Regions from separate parts of the Homo sapiens genome. Here region 1 is linked to region 2. The links come from fine-mapping of genetic effects on gene expression. A gene starts in region 2. The other region holds a variant in brackets. All regions are shown on one strand. Distances are from middle to middle. Region 1 overlaps ZNF114 (zinc finger protein 114). Region 2 holds the start of ZNF114 (zinc finger protein 114).

Region 1 (8,842 bases), 23 kb before region 2:
TATTTATTGAGATGAAGTTTCCCTCTTGTTGCCCAGGCTGGAGTACAGTGTCACGTTCTCGGCTCACTGCAACCTCCGCCTCCTGGGTTCAAGTGATTCTCCTGCCTCAGCCTCCCGAGTAGCTGGGATTACAGGTGCCCACTACCACGCCCGGCTAATTTTTGTATTTTTAGTCGAGATGGGGTTTCACCATGTTGGCCAGGCTGGTCTTGAACTCCTGACCTCAGGTGATCTGCCCACCTCAGCCTCCCAAAATGCTGGGATTACAGGCGTGAGCCACCGCACCCAGCCTATTCATCCATTTCTCTGAGATCCACGTGTCTGGCTCTCTTGGAGCTATGTTGGTCAGGGCAGGCTGGGCTGTGCTGCAGTCACAGCTGCAGATTCTCTGTGGTCCTCAGGCAGCAGAGTTTTCTCTCCTTTGTGGGCCAGCTGAGCGCTCCGCTCCATATCACTCGTGTACCCCGGGCCCATGGCACAGCCATCACTGGAGTGCTGCCAGTCCTTTGGCACGGGAAGAAGAGAGGATGGCACAGCAGGCAGTGACTCTCGAGGCTTGGACCTGATATGACACCTGTCCTCTTAGCTCACACTCAGCCAGAGCGGGTCAGCAGGTTACGCCGAACTTCAAAGGGTCGCCGGGAAGCGCAGTCTTTTCATGTGCCTGGAAGGAGAGAAAGGAAGGATTATTTATGGACAGCCCTAACTCCAGCCACAGGGTCACAGAGAAAAAGCTGACTTTGGCCCTTTCCTGCAGCGGGGGTGGGTGTAGGAGTGAGAGGGCTTAGAACACCTTGATAACTCTTTCCTGTAGTTGAGTCATGCCAAATGCCCTGTCAAAATTTAATCCATTGGTATCAAAGCTATATAAAAACTTCTAAAAATTCAGGCTGGGCGTGGTGGCTCACGCCTGTAATCCCAGCACTTTGGGAGGCCGAGGTGGGTGGATCACTTGAGCCCAGGAGTTCAAGACCAGCCTGGTGAACATGCGAAACCCTGTCTCGACTAAAAATACAAAAATTAGCAGAGCATGGTGATGTGCACCTGTCTTCCCAACTACTCGGGAGGCTGAGGCACAAGAATTGCTTGAATCTGGGAAGCGGAGGTTGCAGTGAGCCGAGATCATGGTACTGCACTCCAGCCTGGTTAATAGAGTGAGAGTGTCTCAAAAAAAAAAAAAAGTTCAAATCCAAACAGATAATCTATCATCCACCTTCCTAATCCAGGTAGCACCCTGAGCCTCCCCTTAAAATGGCTTGATCATAGTGCATACTTTTTTGTGTGAGAATAAGATGAATTTATACACAAAGCCTTAGAACAGTGGCTGGGCGTGGTGGCTCACGCCTGTAATCCCAGCACTTTGGGAGGCCAAGGTTGGCGGATCACCTGAGGTCAGGAGTTCAAGATCAGCCTGGCCAACATGGTGAAACCCCGTCTCTACTAAAAATACAAAAATTAGTCGGGTGTGGTGGCACATGCCTATAATCTCACCTATTCCGGAGGCTGAGGCAGGAGAATCTCTTGAACCTGGGAGGCGGAGGTTGCAGGGAGCCGAGACCATGACACTGCACTCCAGCCTGGGAGACAAGAGTGAAGCTGTATCTCAGAAAATAAATAAATTAATAAATAAAATGGCTTGATAATAGTACATACTTGTTTGTGTGAGAATAAAATGAACTGATACACAGAAAGCCTCAGAACAGTACCTGGCAAGTAGTAAATGCTCAGAACTACATGTGACTATTAGCAGGACAGCGATAAAGATGGAAAGGAGTGTAGTGTTTTCTTTCTATTTATTTATTTATTTATTTATTTTTGAGACGGAGTCTCGCTCTGTCGCCCAGGCTGGAGTGCAGTGGCACAATCTCAGCTCACTGCAATCTCCGCCTCCTGGGTTCAAGCAGTTCTCCTGCCTCAGCCTCCCAAGTAGCTGGGATTACAGGCACCTGCCACCATGCCTGGCTAATTTTTTTTTTTTGTATTTGAGATGGGGGTTTCACCGTGTTGGCCAGGCTGGTCTCGAACCCCTGACCTCAAGTGTGCTCCTACCTCGACCTCCCAAAGTGCTGGGAATACAGGCGTGAGCCACTGAGTCTGGCCTGTGTTCAGCAATATTTGAGCCATTTTTCCTTACAGAAAGAGAAATACTTATTTTTGTGTTTTAAATAAAACTGGTGTAGGAAAGTTAAAAAAAAAAAAAAAGAACTCTATTTCTCCCCTTACAGCTGCACAGGAGGGGACATCCACATATCTTTTCTCATTAATTTGATAAATATTTATTGAGCATGTACTATGTGCCATATATTGTACTAGGTTCTGGGGATGGAAGAGTAAAGGAGAAATTTGAAAATGGCATTTCAGGAGGGAGGTGGAAAGGCAGCTCCTCTGAGGCGTGGCTCCTGGCAGTGGAACTGCTATTCTTCCTCCCTGGGGGCCCAGGAAGTCTCATCTTGGTGTGGAGCTGAGTCGTGACCACCAGCCCTATCTCCCATTTCGGAGCGATTTCCTCCTCTTTCCTTCCAAAGATAGCAGAGTAAGCACAGCAGACCGAGCCTTCTGATTTGCTGCCCCTGCAAAGCGGCCTCATAGACCACCACAGTGCGATGGACTCAGGCTAACCACAGCTCTCTGTCACCTCAAGGGTCCTAGTCCTACAATGAGCAGGTTCACTTCCTCTACCTTCCCCTGGACTGGGGCTGGGCTCGCCACTTTTAGATGGTCAACCCTGCAGCACCCAGCGCAGAATACATCGAAGGCCACTTTAGAGACACCTGAGAATTCAACCTAGATTTTTGATTTTTTATTTTTTTGAGACAGGGTCTTGCTCTGTTGCCCAGGCTGGAGTGCAGTGGTGCAATCTTGGCTCACTCCAGCCTCCACCTCCCAGGTTCAAGTGATTCTCATGCCTCAGCCTCCTGAGCAGCTGGGACTACAGATGTGTGCCACCACGCCCGGCTAATTTTTGTATTTTTTGTAGAGATGGAGGTTTCACCATGTTGGCCAGGCTGGTCTCGAACTCCTGGCCTCCAGTGATCCTCCCGCCTTGGCCTCCCAAAGTGAAAAAGACATTTTAAAGTTTGACCTCTGGAATGCCTTATGCTACAGCCTAAGAGAACAGCAGGTGAGTGCAGCTCAATCTTATCAGCCAAAGTGGAGGAAGGATGAATTAAATTGTACTCAATAGCAGTGAAATTACGGGTATTTAATCATTTTCCTCCTCCAGGAGTGAGGCAGAAACAGGCACTGCCACATCCAGGCTGTGTGGTCTTGGGCCAGTGTCTTCAGCATCCTGAGCTGTTACTCATCCTGACATCAGAGCTGGCAGCGAATCCTGGAGGCAGCTTTGTGTGGTGGGGAAGGCTCACTGGGAGGTAGCGTGGGTGTAACCGGTTCCTCATCATAATCTCTGTCAAGTGAAAAAACATGGGGATAATCTAGAACAGTGGAAAACCCTATCCCAGACCCTTAGAGAGTCAGGAAACCATTTTAAGGTGACCTGACCAGCATTTAAAAATAGGAATAGGCCGGGCCTGGTGGCTCATGCCTGTAATCACAGCACCTTGGGGGGCTGAGGCAGGCGGATCACCTGAGGACAGGAGTTCGAGACCAGCCTGGCCAACATGGTGAAACCCCGTCTTTACTAAAAATGCAAAAATTAGCTGGGCATGATGGCGGGAGCCTGTAATCCCAGCTACTCAGGAGGCTGAGGGAGGCTGAGGCAGGAGGATTGCTTGAACCTGGGGGACAGAGGTTGCAGTGAGCCGAGATCATGCCTGGGTGATAGAGTGACACTCTGTCTCAAAAAAAAAAAAGGAATAGAGTGGAATATAAAGCATCGTGTAATACAGGGCCGTGTAATACAGGGTGGTATTTTTAAAACTAAAATTTTCTTTTTTTTGAGACGGAGTCTCGCCCTGTCACCCAGGCTGGAGTGCAGTGGCGCGATCTCGGCTCACTGTAACCTCTGCCTCCCGGGTTAAAGTAGTTCTTTGCCTCAGCCTCCCTAGTAGCTGGGATTACAGGTGCCCGCCACCATACCTAGCAAATTTTTTTTTTTTTTTTTTTTTAAGTAGAGATGGGGTTTCACCATCTTGGCCAGACTGGTCTGGGACTCCTGACCTGGTGATCCACCCACCTCGGCCTCCCAAAGTGCTGGGATTACAGGCATGAGCCACTGCAGCCGGCCTAAATTTTGTTTTTAATTGTACATATTTATAGGATGCGGCGTGATGTTTTGATACATATATAAATTGTGCAGTGATCAAATCAAGGTTATTAGCAAATCCATCATCCCAGATGCTTGCCATTTCTTTGCGGTGAAACATGCAAAATGTTCTAGCTATTTTGAAGTATACAATCCATTGTTGTTGGCTATAGAGGGTGGTATTCTTTTGTAAAAGTATGCTGATGCGGCCAGGCACGGTGGCTCATGCCTGCAATCCCAGCACTTTGGGAGGCCGAGGCGGGCAGATCACTTGAGGCCAGGAATTCGAGACCAGCCTGGCTAACATTGTAAAACCCCATCTCTACTAAAAATAAAAAATTAGCCAGGCGCGGTGACGGGCGCCTGTAATCTCAGCTACTCAGGAGGCTGAGGCAGGAGAATCGCTTGAACCCTGGAAGTGGAGTTTGCAGTGAGCCGAGATCGTGCCACTGCATTCCAACCTGGGCAACAGAGCAAGACCTTGTCTCAAAAAAAAAAAAAAAAAAATGCTGACGCAAAATGATTTCTTACTGTGCGTCAGAATTTTGGAAGCCACTGGTAGACAGTCCTTAGTTTCACACAATGATTTTCAGACAACTGCCCATTCGCCAATTCCAACCACCTCGGCCCACTGCCCAAATCCAACGTTTCTGGTCTCCGGGCGGCGCTGCCTTAGCAGGATCCGCCGCCAGGTGGCGCGCTCCCCCCGCCCGGAGTGGGTTTTGTTCCATCCCGGACTTAGATCTTCCAAGACGGCGATTTCCTTCTGGTCGGGTCTCTTCCCGAGGATCCGCTTTACTCGTACTAGAAACTCTGACCTCGAATGCAGTTCCAGAAGCAGAACCCTGTAGGGGGTTTCAGGCGGCCAAGAAGGGAAGTGGTTCTCCTAAGACCGTCCCGGCTTCAGTCCACGGCGCTCACTAAATGCCTCCCACGCCAGACGAGGTCCCCCGTCCCCGGAGCTCGCGTCCCAGAGGTGAGGACACACACGAACCCTCCTGCCCGAATTCGCGACCCCGTCAGTGCAGGGAGGCTCTGGCCTGGGGCTGAAGAGCCGAGTCTCTGGTGCCTGACAGCACGGGGT[C/G]GAGCCCCTCCCGGCCACCTGCTGGCTGTGTGATCTTGGGCATCGTGCTTGGCCTCGCTGTGCCTCAGTTCCCCCCACTGTAAAATGGTAGTGATAACAGCAGCCACTTCATAGCGTTGCAGGCGTTGCATGAGTTAATAGGTGCAAAGCGCTCAGAAGGGGGCCTGGCGTATGTTTGCCAAAACGATTGTTGAAAATTCTCAGTTTACATCTGTGAGAATTGAGGACCAGTTGGGGGTAGAGGGTGGGGAATCCCCAAAGTCGGCTAAGTTCAGCCTCAGCGACTGGAGGCGGGAGGGGTGTTCCCTCAGCTACAGATGTTTCCCCCCTCCCGCCCCGGCCCCCTCCACCCCCGGTTGAATCCAGGGATTCTGATTTCAGCCATGGTCCTTTTCCTCCGCACAGCGCTCCCTGGGGGTGGGAGTGGACCCAGGCCCCTTGGCAAGGTCTGGGACTGTCCTGGCATAGCAGCCTCCCCTCCTCCTCTTCATTCCTTCCAGGATGGGGAGGGCCATGAGTCACCCAGATTCTAGGATAAAGCAGCAGATTGCTGGGAAACGCAGGCAGCAGGGGTCCGGGAGAAAGGGCCAAGCTTGAGCCCCCTCAGCCACAGTGGGGGTCCCTGACCTGCAGGTCTTCCCCAAACACTGAAAGCTGAACTTAACAGTGCTGGGGCCATGCAGAATGCGCGCCTAGGAGGACCTCTGCTCTTACCAGTGGCGTTTCTCTTTTCTTTTCCTTTTTTTTTGGAGACGAAATCTCGCTCCGTCGCCCAGACGGGAGTGCAGTGGCGCAGTCTCAGCTCACTGCAACCGCTGCCTCCCTTGTTCAAGTGATTCTCCTGCCTCAGCCTCCCAAGTAGCTGGGATTACAGATGTCTGCACCATGCCTGGCTAAGTTTTGTATTTTTAGTAGAGATGGGGTTTCGCCATGTTGGCCAGGCTGGTCCCGAACTCCTGACCTCAAGTGATCCACCCACCCCGGCCTCCCAAAGTGCTGGGATTACAGGCATGAGCCACCGCGCCCGGCCTATTTTTTTTTTTTTTGAGACAGAGTCTCACTCTGTCTGTTGCCCAGGCTGGAGTGCAGTGGCACGATCTCGGCTCACTGCAACCTCCGCCTCTTGGGCTCAAATAATTCTCCTGCCTCAGCCTCCTGAGTAGCTGGGACTACAGGTGCATGCCACCATGCCTGACTAATTTTTGTATTTTTAGTAGAGACGGGGTTTCACCACATTGGCCAGGCTGGTCTTGAACCCTGACCTCAAGTGATCCACCTGCCTCGGCCTCCCAAAGTGCTGGGATTACAGGCGTGAGCCACCACGCCCGGCCAAGAATGACTTTCATAAAATGCTCATTGGGAGGGCTTTGCAAAATTGGTGTTAGCAGCATGTTTATAATCTCTAAAGTGAGATACAGATCCAGGGTCTCTGGAATGAATATAACTAAGAAAGAATGAATGCCACCTGCACCCTACCTGCTTAGCTTTTCTTTTCCTGAAAGAAGCAAGGCACAAAGAAATATTCTATGCCATGCCATCATACGCAGCATAAACATCATCGAAACTAGAAAACAGGGTATTTGGGGATTTCTGCATAGCTGCAAACATAAAGATGAGCGAGGGGGGCGAATGATACAAAATGAACCATGGCGGTTTCCTCTTGGGGCTGGAGATGTCGTCTGTGAGGCACAGACGTGAATTGCCTGGTGTTTAATGATGAGCTGTTTACGGGCTTGGATGGTGGGTATAAGGGTGATCACTTTATTAACTTTGAAATGTCGTGGTGGCAGGTGCCTGTAATCTCAGCTACTCAGGAGGCTGAGGCAGGAGAATCACTTGAACCTGGGAGGCAGAGGTTGCAGTAAGCGGAGATCACGCCACTGCACTCCAGCTTGGGCAACAAGAACAAAACTCCATCTCGAAAAAAAAAATGTATATGTACATTTTCATGCATTTTCAGGTAGTCATATTTCCCAACTTTTATTTTTTATTATTTTTATTTTTACTTTTTTTGAGATAAGTTTCACTCTTGTTGCCCAGGCTGGAGTGCAATGGCACAATCTCGGCTCACCGCAACCTCCGCCTCCCAGATGCAAGCAATTCTCCTGCCTCAGCCTCCTGAGTAGTTGGGATTACAGGCGTGAGCCACCACACCTGGCTAATTTTATATTTTTAGTAGAGATGGGGTTTCTCCATGTTGGTCAGGCTGGTCTCGAACTCCTCACCTCAGGCGATCCGCCCACCTTGGCCTCCCAAAGTGCTGGGGTGACAGGCATGAGCCAACATGCCCGGCCGTTTCCCAACTTTTAAAAGATTGAAAAGAGGCCGGGCACAGTGGCTTATGCCTGTAATCCCAGCACTTTGGGAGGCCAAGGCAGGCAGGTCACTTGAGGTCAGGAGTTTGAGACCAGCCTGGCCAGCGTGGTGAAATCTCGTCTCTACTAAAAATAGAAAAATTAGCTGGGCGTGGTGGTGGGTGTCTGTAATCCCAGCTACTCGGGAGGGTGAGGCAGGAGAATCACTTGAGCCCAGGAGGCAGAGGTTGCAGTAAGTCGAGATTGCCCCACTGCTCTCCAGCCTGGGTGACAGAGCAAGACTCTGTCTCAAAATAAATACATACATAAATAAAATAAAAATAAAAATAAGACATTAAATAGTGCTCATTGTGGAAAGTGAATCTATGTGCCCTTAGTAAAGAAGATGAGAAGAATGGAGGTGGCAGGGAAGTTGACAGAATAGGGCACATTAGACTGACAAAGTCATAACAAGTAACCCAAGTTGGTACCAGAAAGACCACATACTCTGACCATAATGCAGTTGAACAGTGACCAATAAGACAAAAATGGTATCATGGAGTATATGAATCCCAAGTCTAAATTGAATGAGGCTCAAAGAAGGCTTCACATTGAAAATGAGACCACGTGTATGTGAGTTATAATGAACCTGCTATATACCAACATTTATGTGGCAGAGCTGGGAGTGTGCAAAGAGGGATATCCTTCATCTTGTAGCATTTTTTTTTTTAGAAAGGAAAAACTGGAAAATCATGAACATTTACAGTGTTTCAGTCCTACTGTGCGCTCATTGTGCCTAAGTGAAAGGCTGGACCTGAAAGCTTTCTTTTTTTTTTTGAGACAGGGTGTCACTTTGTCACCCAGGGTGGAGTGCAGTGGTGCAAACACAGCTCACTGCTGCCTCAAGCTCCCAGGCTCAAGCGATCCTCCTGCCTCAGCTCCCCAGGTAGCTGGGACTACAGGCATGTGCTACCACTCCTGGTTAATTTTTGCATTTTTTTTTTTTTTTTTGTAGAGATGGGGTTTCTCCATGTTGCCCAGGCTGGTCTCAAACTCCTGGACTCAAGCAATCCCCCACCTTGGACTCCCAAAGTGCTAGGATTACAGGTGTGAGTCACTGCACCAGGCCTTGAAAGCTTTCTTATTTTTATTCCAGTTGTAGCCTCCCTTCAGGATGTGGATTCACATGCAACATGAGTGGTAAGTGTTTAAAGAGGTCTTTCCTACTTTTTTTTTTTTTTGAGACGGAGTCTCGCTCTT
Region 2 (8,823 bases):
TGACACAGAAGCAAGCCTGTGCAACTCAGGGGCTGAGCTGTAAATAAGAGTTTTTGAGACACAACATTCCACGTCTATCTTGACCTTATAGTTCCCAAGGAAACAGCCACACCTGATGATAACCCCATTACACGCATCTCAGCTGTAAGCCTACCTAAGAAGATAAAACCGCCTATTTCAATTTAAGTTTCCCTGAATTCCGTCCTTTCCCCAATACAATTGGAGCGCCGGTTCTGACCCTAGTAACCTCAGACACATCAGCTCAGGACAGTAGTTTAAAAAAAAAAAAAACAGAAAAGAAAAGAAAAAGAAAAACAACGCATCATTGTGAGTCAGCTCAGGTGAGCAGGCTGAGGTTGGCTTTTGCCTGATTGTCCATGACGAAGATATACCTGGCTGATGAAACACATTCCCACCTTTGCCCTGAGTTCCAGTAAATCAGACCTCACCGGAGCGGATTAGTGATAAAAATGCATCTTGTTCCGACCGTGGGGTTTGATCCTGACACCTTCACACCACTCTCCTTGCAGCTTGTCCTTTTTATATATTTCCTCTGCTGAGGTCTCAGTTCCCATAAAAGACCATGTTCAGCACACGGAACTCAAACCCTCAAAGCTCTTTATCTGGCCAGGCGCTGTGGCTCACGCCTGTAATCCCAGCCCTTTGGGAGGCCGAGGCGGGCAGATCACGAGGTCAGGAGCTCGAGACCATCCTGGCTAACGCGGTGAAACCCCGTCTCTACTAAAAATACAAAAAATTAGCCGGGCGCGGTGGCGGGCGCCTGTAGTCCCAGCTACTTGAGAGGCTGAGGCAGGAGAATGGCGTGAACCCGGGAGGCGGAGCTTGCAGTGAGCAGAGATCGCGCCACAGCGCTCCAGCCTGGGTGACAGAGCGAGACTCCCTCTCAAAAAAAAAAAAAAAAAAAAAGCTCTTTCTCGTAAGAAACCAGTGCATCCTGCACGTCTGGCCCTGCCCAGGACTTTTCAGTTCACCCTCATCACAACAGGCTCCAATCCAATACTTTTTTTTTTTTTTTTTTTTTTTTTGAGAGAGAGTCTTGCTCTGTCGCCCAGGCTAGAGTGCAGTGGCACGATCTCGGCTCACTGCAACCTTCACCTCCCAGGTAGAAGCGATTCTCCTGCCTCAGCCTCCCAAGTAGCTAGGATTACAGGCGCTCGGCTCACTGCAATCTCCACCTCCCAGGTTCAAGCGATTCTCCTGCCTCAGCCTCCCGTGTAGCTAGGATCACAGGCGCCCGCCACCATGCCCGGCTAATTATTATTATTATTATTATTTATTTTTTTTTTTGAGACAGAGTCTCCCTCTGTCGCCCAGGCTGGAGTGCAATGGCTCGATTTCGGCTCACTGCAACCTCCACCTCCCGGGTTCAAGCGATTCTACTGCCTCAGCCTCCTGAGTAGCTGGGATTACAGGCGCATGCCACCACGGCCAGCTAATTTTGGTATTTTTAGTGGAGATGGGGGTTTCACCATGTTGGCCAGGCTGGTCTCGAACTCCTGACCTCAGGTGATCCGCCCACCTCGGCCTTCGAAAATGCTGGGATTACAGGCGTGAGCCACCGCGCCCGGCCAGCTCCAATACTTTCATGGATGCAAAGAACACAACCCCTGCAACCGCTGCATGCGGGCATCTCTGCTGCCCAAGCCCGGGGACAGGCGCTTTCGCAACGCTGCAGCACGGTATGGGGGAAGCGCCCTTCTCCCTGGGCCAAGGTGAAGGGCGCGCTCGGGGTCTGAACACGTGGGTCATTCGTGCCTTCCCCTTTCCTCCCGGAAGGGTAGAGACAATGAGGCTTTTGCAGACAGCAACTCTCAAGTCCCTGGGCCCCGGCCCGGTCCCGCCCTTAGTACGGACACTCAGGCACACTTACTCTTCCACTAGCTCCGGCTTCCAGATGTCTCTGTCGGTGGCGCAGCCCAAAAGCGCGCGCAGCCCAGGAGCGTCTCGGAGCTGCACCAGGATGGGGATCAAACTGTTGAAATAAATCAACCTAACGAGGCCGCCAGGAAGGACCGACTACAGAGATTCGTCCTGCCCAGACATTTTGTACTCGCTTCTTGACCCCTTCCTCAAAATGGACGGTGTAAGGGACCAGGGGGAGGAGAGGGGAGCCGAGCAGGCAGGGGATCCCAGCGCCCGCACTCCTGCCTGCCCACCCCCGTCCCACCCCCCGCCCCCGGGACCCGATCGACCCGACCCCAGAGTCTGACCCCCACGACCAGTAGATTGACATTTCCTGTAGAACTTACTCCCCAGGCACTCCTGATCCAAGCAGGAAACCCCAGCCTTGGGTCCTCGCTGTCGCCTCCGCCCGCGCCACCGTTCCTAGGCTCTCCAGCTGGGAAGCGCGCTCTCTGCGCAGCCAACGCGCCTCCTTGCGGGCTCCGGAGACTCCGGCCGCTTGCTGGCTTCCTGCATTTCCCAAGGAAAGAAGGCTTTTTTTTCCCCTCAGTACTGTAAAAGGGCGGAAACAGACAGGTTGGGGAGTCTCCAGTTTCTCTCTTGTCCCCATTTTTATGTTTTTGCTACCACTCCCCCCCATCCGTTGACTAGCGGCTAAACCGCAAGGCTCCCGTCGCCTACCCTTGAAATGATTTTTTTCTTCCTTCCTTCCTTTCTTTTCTTTCTTTCTTTTTTTTTTTTGAGACGGAGTCTCGCTCTGTCGCCCAGGCTGGAGTGCAGTGGCGCGATCTCGGTTCACTGCAACCTCCGCCTCCCGGGTTCATGCCATTCTCTCGCCTCAGCCTCCGAGTAGCTGGGACTACAGGCGCCCGCCACCACCCTGGCTAAGTTTTTGTATTTTTAGTAAAGACAGGGTTTCAGCGATCTCCTGACCTCGTGATCCGCCCGCCTCGGCCTCCCAAAGTGCTGAGATTACAGGCGTGAGCCACCGCGCCCGGCCCTTCTTTTCTTTTCTTTCTTTCTTTCTTTCTTTCTCTTTTTTCTCTTTTCTTTCTTTCCCTTTTTTCTCTTTCTTTCTTCTCTTTCTTTCTTTTCCTCTCCCTCCCTCCTTCCTTCCTTTTTTCTCTTTCTTTCTTCTTTTTCTTTCTCTCTCTCCCTTCCTCCTTTTCTCCCTCCCTCCCTTCCTCCCTCCCTTCTTTCTTCTCTTTCTTTCTTTCTTCTTTCTTTTTTCTTTCTCTTTCTTCCCTCCCTCCCTTCTTTCCTTTCTCTCTCTCCCTCCCTTTCTCTTTCTTTCTTTCTTTCCTTCCTTCCCCCCTTCCTCTCTCCCTCTCTGCCCCTCCCTCCCTCCCTTCCTTCCTTTTTTATTTTTTTCCTTTTCTTATTCTTTTTTTCTTTTTTTTTTTCTGAGACAAGTTCTTGCTCTGTCCTTCAGGCTGGAGTGCAGTGGCGCAATCTTGGCTCACTGCAGCCTCAAGCGATCCTACCACTTCAGTCTCCCAAGTAGCTGGGACCACAGGCACGTACAAGGCATGCCTGGCTAATTTTAATTTTTTTTTTTTTTAGAGATGAAAACTCACTATGCTGCCCAGACTCGTCTCGAACTCCTGGGTGTCACGCGTGTCCGTATAGAAGACCACCTAAACAGGCTTTGTGTAAGCAACAAAGGCTGTTTATTCACTTGGGTGCAAGTGGGCTGAGTTGGAAAAGAGAGTCAGCGAAGGGAGATAGGAGAGGGGCAGCTTTATAGGGCTGGGGTAGGCAGTGGAAAGTTACAGTTAAAGGTGGTTATTTGTTGTCAGCAGGGGAGGGGCTCACAAGGTGCATTGTGGAGAGATCATGGGACTCATTGTCCAGGAGAAGAATGTCACAGGGTCGACTGATCAGTTGGGGCAGGGCAGGAACAAGTCATAATGGTGGAATGTCATAAGGTGGGTTAATCAGTTAAGGCAGGAACTGGCTGTTTCACTTCTTTTGTGGTTTTTCGGCTGCTCCAGACTTCTTGGCTCCTGCAGGCCATCTGGACGTATATGTGTAGGTCACAGGGGTTACAATGGCTGAGCTTCGGCTCAGAGGCCTGACACTGGGCTTAAAGTGATCCTCTGGCCTTGGGAGGCTGAGGTGGGCAGATCACCTGAGGCGAGGAGTTCAAGGCCAACATGGCGAAACCCTGTCTCTACTAAAAATACAAAAACGAGCTGGGCATGGTGGTGCATACCTGTAATCCCAGCTGCTCGGGAGGCTGAGGCAGGAGAATCGTTTGAACCTGGGAGGAGGAGGTTGCAGTGAGCTGAGATAGCGCCATTGCACTCCAGCCTGGGTGACAGAGCAAGACTCCGTTTCAAAACAAACAAAACAAAACAAAACCCAAAATGACTGCCTAAACCCAGACCTCTAGGACACAGACTCAGTTTCCCACCCTGACTCTGCTTAACTGGGGAGTCGCTTGATCTTCAGGTGCCCCTGATGCAAATCAGCTGAACAAAGCGTTTATCCTCTACTCGAGTTACATCGTTTCTTTTCCTTTGAGGGTCCCCAGCAAACCTTGATGTGCATCTCTTTTTCTTTTGGTTCTTTGGGAGGAAAGATTAAGCCCAGCCCAGCCAGCTCCTGGAGCTCCCCAGGAAGGAAGGGCTGGGAGTCCCTATCTGGTCAATTAAATAATTTATTTATTTATTTATTTTGAGACGGAGTTTCGCTCTTGTTGCCCAGGCTGGAGTGCGATGGCGCAATCTCAGCTCACCACAACCTCTGCCTCCCGGGTTCAAGCAATTCTCCCACCTCAGCCTCCCGAGTAGCTGGGATTACAGGCACACGTCACCATGCCTGGCTAAGTTTTGTGTCTTTAGTAGAGACGGGGTTTCTCCATGTTGGTCAGGCTGGCCTCGAACTCGCAACCTCAGGTGATCCACCTGCCTCGGCCTCCCGAAGTGCTGGGATTACAGGCATGAGCCACTGCACCCCGGCCTAAATAATTTATTTTTTATGGACTGTCTTTCTTCACTCTAGTAATGAAATTCTACCATAAAGCTTAAATTGCCAAATATTGATCATACTTACCCCAGTTACATTTTTTTACGGTGATAAAATATACATCACAAACATTTCCATGTGAACCATTTTTTTTTTTTTTTTTGTGACGGACTCTCCCTCTGTCACCCAGGCTGAGGTGCAGTGGCACGATCTTGGCTCACTGCAAGCTCTGCCTCCCGGGTTCACGCCATTCTCCTGCCTCAGCCTCCTGAGTAGCTGGGACTACAGGCATCTGCCACGCCCAGCTATTTTTTTTGTATTTTTAGTAGAGATGGGGTTTCACCATGTTAGCCAGGATGGTCTCGATCTCCTGACCTCGTGATCCACCCACCTCGGCCTCCCAAAGTGCTGGGATTACAGACATGAGCCACCGTGCCCGGCCTCCATGTGAACCATTTTAAAGTGTACACTTCAGTGGCATTAAGTACAGCCACATCGCTGTGTAACCATCATCACGATTCATCTCCAGAACTTTGTCATCTTTCCCAATTAAAACTCCGTACCCGTTAAATAATCACACCCCATTCCCTTTTTCTCTCAGTCCCTGGTAAGCTCTGTTCTACTTTCTGTGTCCAGGAATTTGACTGTTCTAGGAATCTCCTAGAAGTGGAATCACTCGGCCTTTGCCTTTTTGTGTCTGACGTATTTAATTTTGCACAATGTTTTCCAAGTTCACCTACGGTGAAGCATGTATCAGTATTTCATTCCTTTTAAAGTCTGAAAAGTATTCCACGGTATGTAGTGTTCAAAAGTAAAATGTATGGCTGGGCATGGTGGCTCACACCTGTAATCCCAGCACTTTGGGAAGCTGAGGCGGGCGGATCACCTGCGGTCAGGAGTTCAACACCAGCCTGGCCAACATGGTGAAACCCCGTCTCTACTAAAAATACAAAAATGAGCCAGGCATGGTAGTGCATGCCTGTAGTCCCAGGTACTCGGGAGGCTGAGGCGGGAGAATTGTTTGAACCTGACGGGGAGAGGTTGCAGTGAGCCGAGATCGTGCCACTGCACTCCAGCCTGGGCAACAGAGTGAGACTCTGTCTCAAAAAAAAAAAAAAAAAAAAAAAAGTACAATGTGACATAAGAAAATTTCTGACCTCGGGCTGGGGGCGTTGGCTCACACCTGTAATCTCAGCACTTTGGGAGGCTGAGGTGGGCGGATCACCTGAGGTCAGGAGTTCAAGACCAGCCTGACCAAAATGGAGATACCCCGTCTCTACTAAAAATACAAAATTAGCCGGGCGTGGTGGCGCATGCCTGTAATTCCAGCTACTCGGGAGGCTGAGGCAGGAGAATCGCTTGAACCTGGGAGGCGGAGGTTGCGGTGAGCCGAGTGTGCCATTGCACTCCAGCCTGGGCAACAAGAGCGGAACTCCATAAAAAAAAAAAAGAAAATTTCTGACCTCTTCCCCAAATAAACTACCTGCACGTAAGCCCTCATTTCAGGCTCTCCTTTTTGGAGGCTCCCAAATTATGACCGAAGGAGTCCAAGGACTTGAGAAGAACCCTGTTAAACCTTGGTTCAGGTCTGGGCTCAGGGCACTAAAGGATATTCCTCTTGCGACCTCTAGTGGTTGTAGGTGTCCAATTCCCTTCTATTTTCTCTGGGTCTTCATCTCCAGCAGTGCTTCCCTTCCCTTGTTTTCTCATCCTCTCCCTTCAAAAACCTGCTTCTTGGCCAGGGGCGGTGGCTCACGCCTGTAATCCCAGCACTTTGGGAGCCTGAGGCGGGCGGATCACGAGATCAGGAGTTCGAGACCAGCTTGGCCAACATGGTGAAACCCAGTCTCTACTAAAAATACAAAAATTAGCTGGGTGTGGTGGACGCCTGTAATCCCAGCTACTTGGGAGGCTGAGGCAGGAGAATCGCTGGAAGCCAGGAGGCGGAGGTTGCAGTGAGCCAAGATTGCGCCACTGCACTCCAGCCTGGGTGACAGAGCGAGACTCTGTCTCAAAAAAAAAAAAAAAAAAAAAACCCACAAAAAACCACAAAAAAACCTGCTTCTTTTCTGGTATCCTCAATATCCCGTTTCACCTATGCCTTCACTGCTAGGTGGATCTTTTTAAAGAAAATTGGGAACATTATATTATTTCACCTGTAAAAATATCACTACGATGGCCAGGTACAGTGGTTCATGCTTTGAGAGGCCGAAGTGGGTGGATTGCCTGAGCTCAGGAGTTCGAGACCACCCTGGGCAAAATGGCAAAACCCTGTCTCTAAAAAAAAAAAAAAAAAAATTAGTCAGGCGTGTGGTGCACGTAGTCCCAGCTACTTCAGCTACTTGGGAGGCTGAGGCGGGAGGATCACTTGAGCTCAGGAGGTGGAGGTTGTAGTGAGCTGAGATCTTGCCACTGCACTCCACTCTGGGTGACAGAGTGAGACTCTGTATCAATAAATAAAAAATAAAAAATAAAAATATCACTATGTATGTTTAAAAGATGAAGAGTTAAAAAATGCTTTACTGTCTTACATGAATACTCCCTTACAATGAAAAGTAATCATCATTCAGGACATCATAAAATATCCCGTTAATGTTGTCATTTCCCTGGTTCTTATTTTTACTTTATTGCTTTGCATAGAGATACAAATCATCCACTATAATAGGTTTTTGTGTGTGTGTGTTAATTCTTTGTTAATCTAAGTTGCCACTTATTTAATTCCATCCCCCCATTCAAACATTGCTATTGTTGTAGAAAGTAGGTCATTTTTTCTGTAAAATTTTCTTTGGTTTCAGTTTTGCCAATTAGATCCTTGTGTTGTCATTTAACATGTTTTTCTTTCTTTCTTTCTTTCTTTTTTGAGACGGAGTTTCGCTCCTGTTGCCTAGGTTGGAGTGCAATGGCGTGATCTCGGCAAACTGCAACCTCCGCCTCCTGGGTTCACACCATTCTCCTGCCTCAGCCTCCCGAGTAGCTGGGATTACAGGTGCCCACCACCAGGCCCTGCTAATTTTTTTTGTATTTTCAGTAGAGACGTGGTTTCACCATACTGGCCAGGGTGATCTCGAACTCCTGACCTCAGGTGATCTGCCCGCCTCAGCGTCCCAAAGTGCTGGGATTACCAGCGTGAGCCACTGTGCCCGGCCTTGGTTGCCTGTTTTTATGGTTATTTCTTCATGATATGGTAACCAAGGGGTGGATTATTCATGCCTTCCCTTTTTGGTCCACATAGGGTAACTTCCTGACGTTGCCATGGCATCTGTAAACTGTGATGGAGCTGGTGGGAGTGTAGCAATGAGGACCACCAGAGGTCACTCTCGTCGCCATCCTGGTTTTGGTGGGTTTTGGCCGGCTCCTTTACTGCAACCTGTTTTATCAGCAAGGTCTTTATGACCTGTATCTTGTGCCGACCTCCTATCTCATCCTGTGACTTAGAATGCCTTCATCATTTGGGAATGCAGCCCGGTAGGTCTCAGCCTCATTTTCTCCACCTCCTACTCAAGATGGAGTTGCTCTGGTTCAAATGCCTCTGACAAAATGTCTACGGAGGCCGGGCGCGGTGGCTCATGCCTGTAACCCCAGCACTTTTGGAGGTTGAGGCGAGTGGGTCATGAGGACAGGAGTTCAAGACCAGCCTGGCCAACATGGTGAAACCCCCATCTCTACTAAAAATACAAAAATTAGCTGAGCGTGGCGGTGGGCACCTGTAATCCCAGCTACTCAGGAGACTGAGGCAAGAGAATCATTAGAACCTGAGAGGCAGAGGTTGCAGTGAGCTGAGATCATGCCATTGCATTCCAGCCTGGGCAACAAGAGCGAAACTCCATCTCAAAAGAAAAAAAAATGTCTATGGGAGGTGGGCAGTCTCCCATAGCTGGGACATCAGCGGTCTGTGGTGACAGCCTGTCATCCCTCTGTCCCTTCACTAAC

The links. PIP is the estimated chance that this variant, and not a neighbour inherited with it, causes the effect.
Region 1: its variant is the best candidate, but not a certain one, in a credible set for the expression of ZNF114 in hippocampus (GTEx, PIP 0.55).

Annotation. Positions count from the first base shown.
Region 1 is chr19:48,287,478-48,296,319 of GRCh38, reverse strand. It overlaps ZNF114 (zinc finger protein 114), which reads right to left. Exons shown (of 6, transcript NM_153608.4): 6 at 8,712-8,842. Among named protein-coding and RNA genes, the nearest start is that of ZNF114-AS1, 20 kb to the right of the region's middle. RefSeq lists enhancers at 17-516, 517-1,018, 4,298-4,946, 5,064-5,113, 5,134-5,183. The variant C/G (reference allele first, on the strand shown) is at 5,289.
Region 2 is chr19:48,264,897-48,273,719 of GRCh38, reverse strand. It overlaps ZNF114 (zinc finger protein 114), which reads right to left and starts at 3,639. Exons shown (of 6, transcript NM_153608.4): 1 at 3,501-3,639; 2 at 2,271-2,475; 3 at 1,892-1,993. ZNF114-AS1 (ZNF114 antisense RNA 1) reads left to right here and starts at 1,888. Exons shown (of 3, transcript XR_936008.4): 1 at 1,888-2,104; 2 at 3,487-3,575. RefSeq lists enhancers at 1,386-1,891, 1,892-2,398, 6,578-6,627.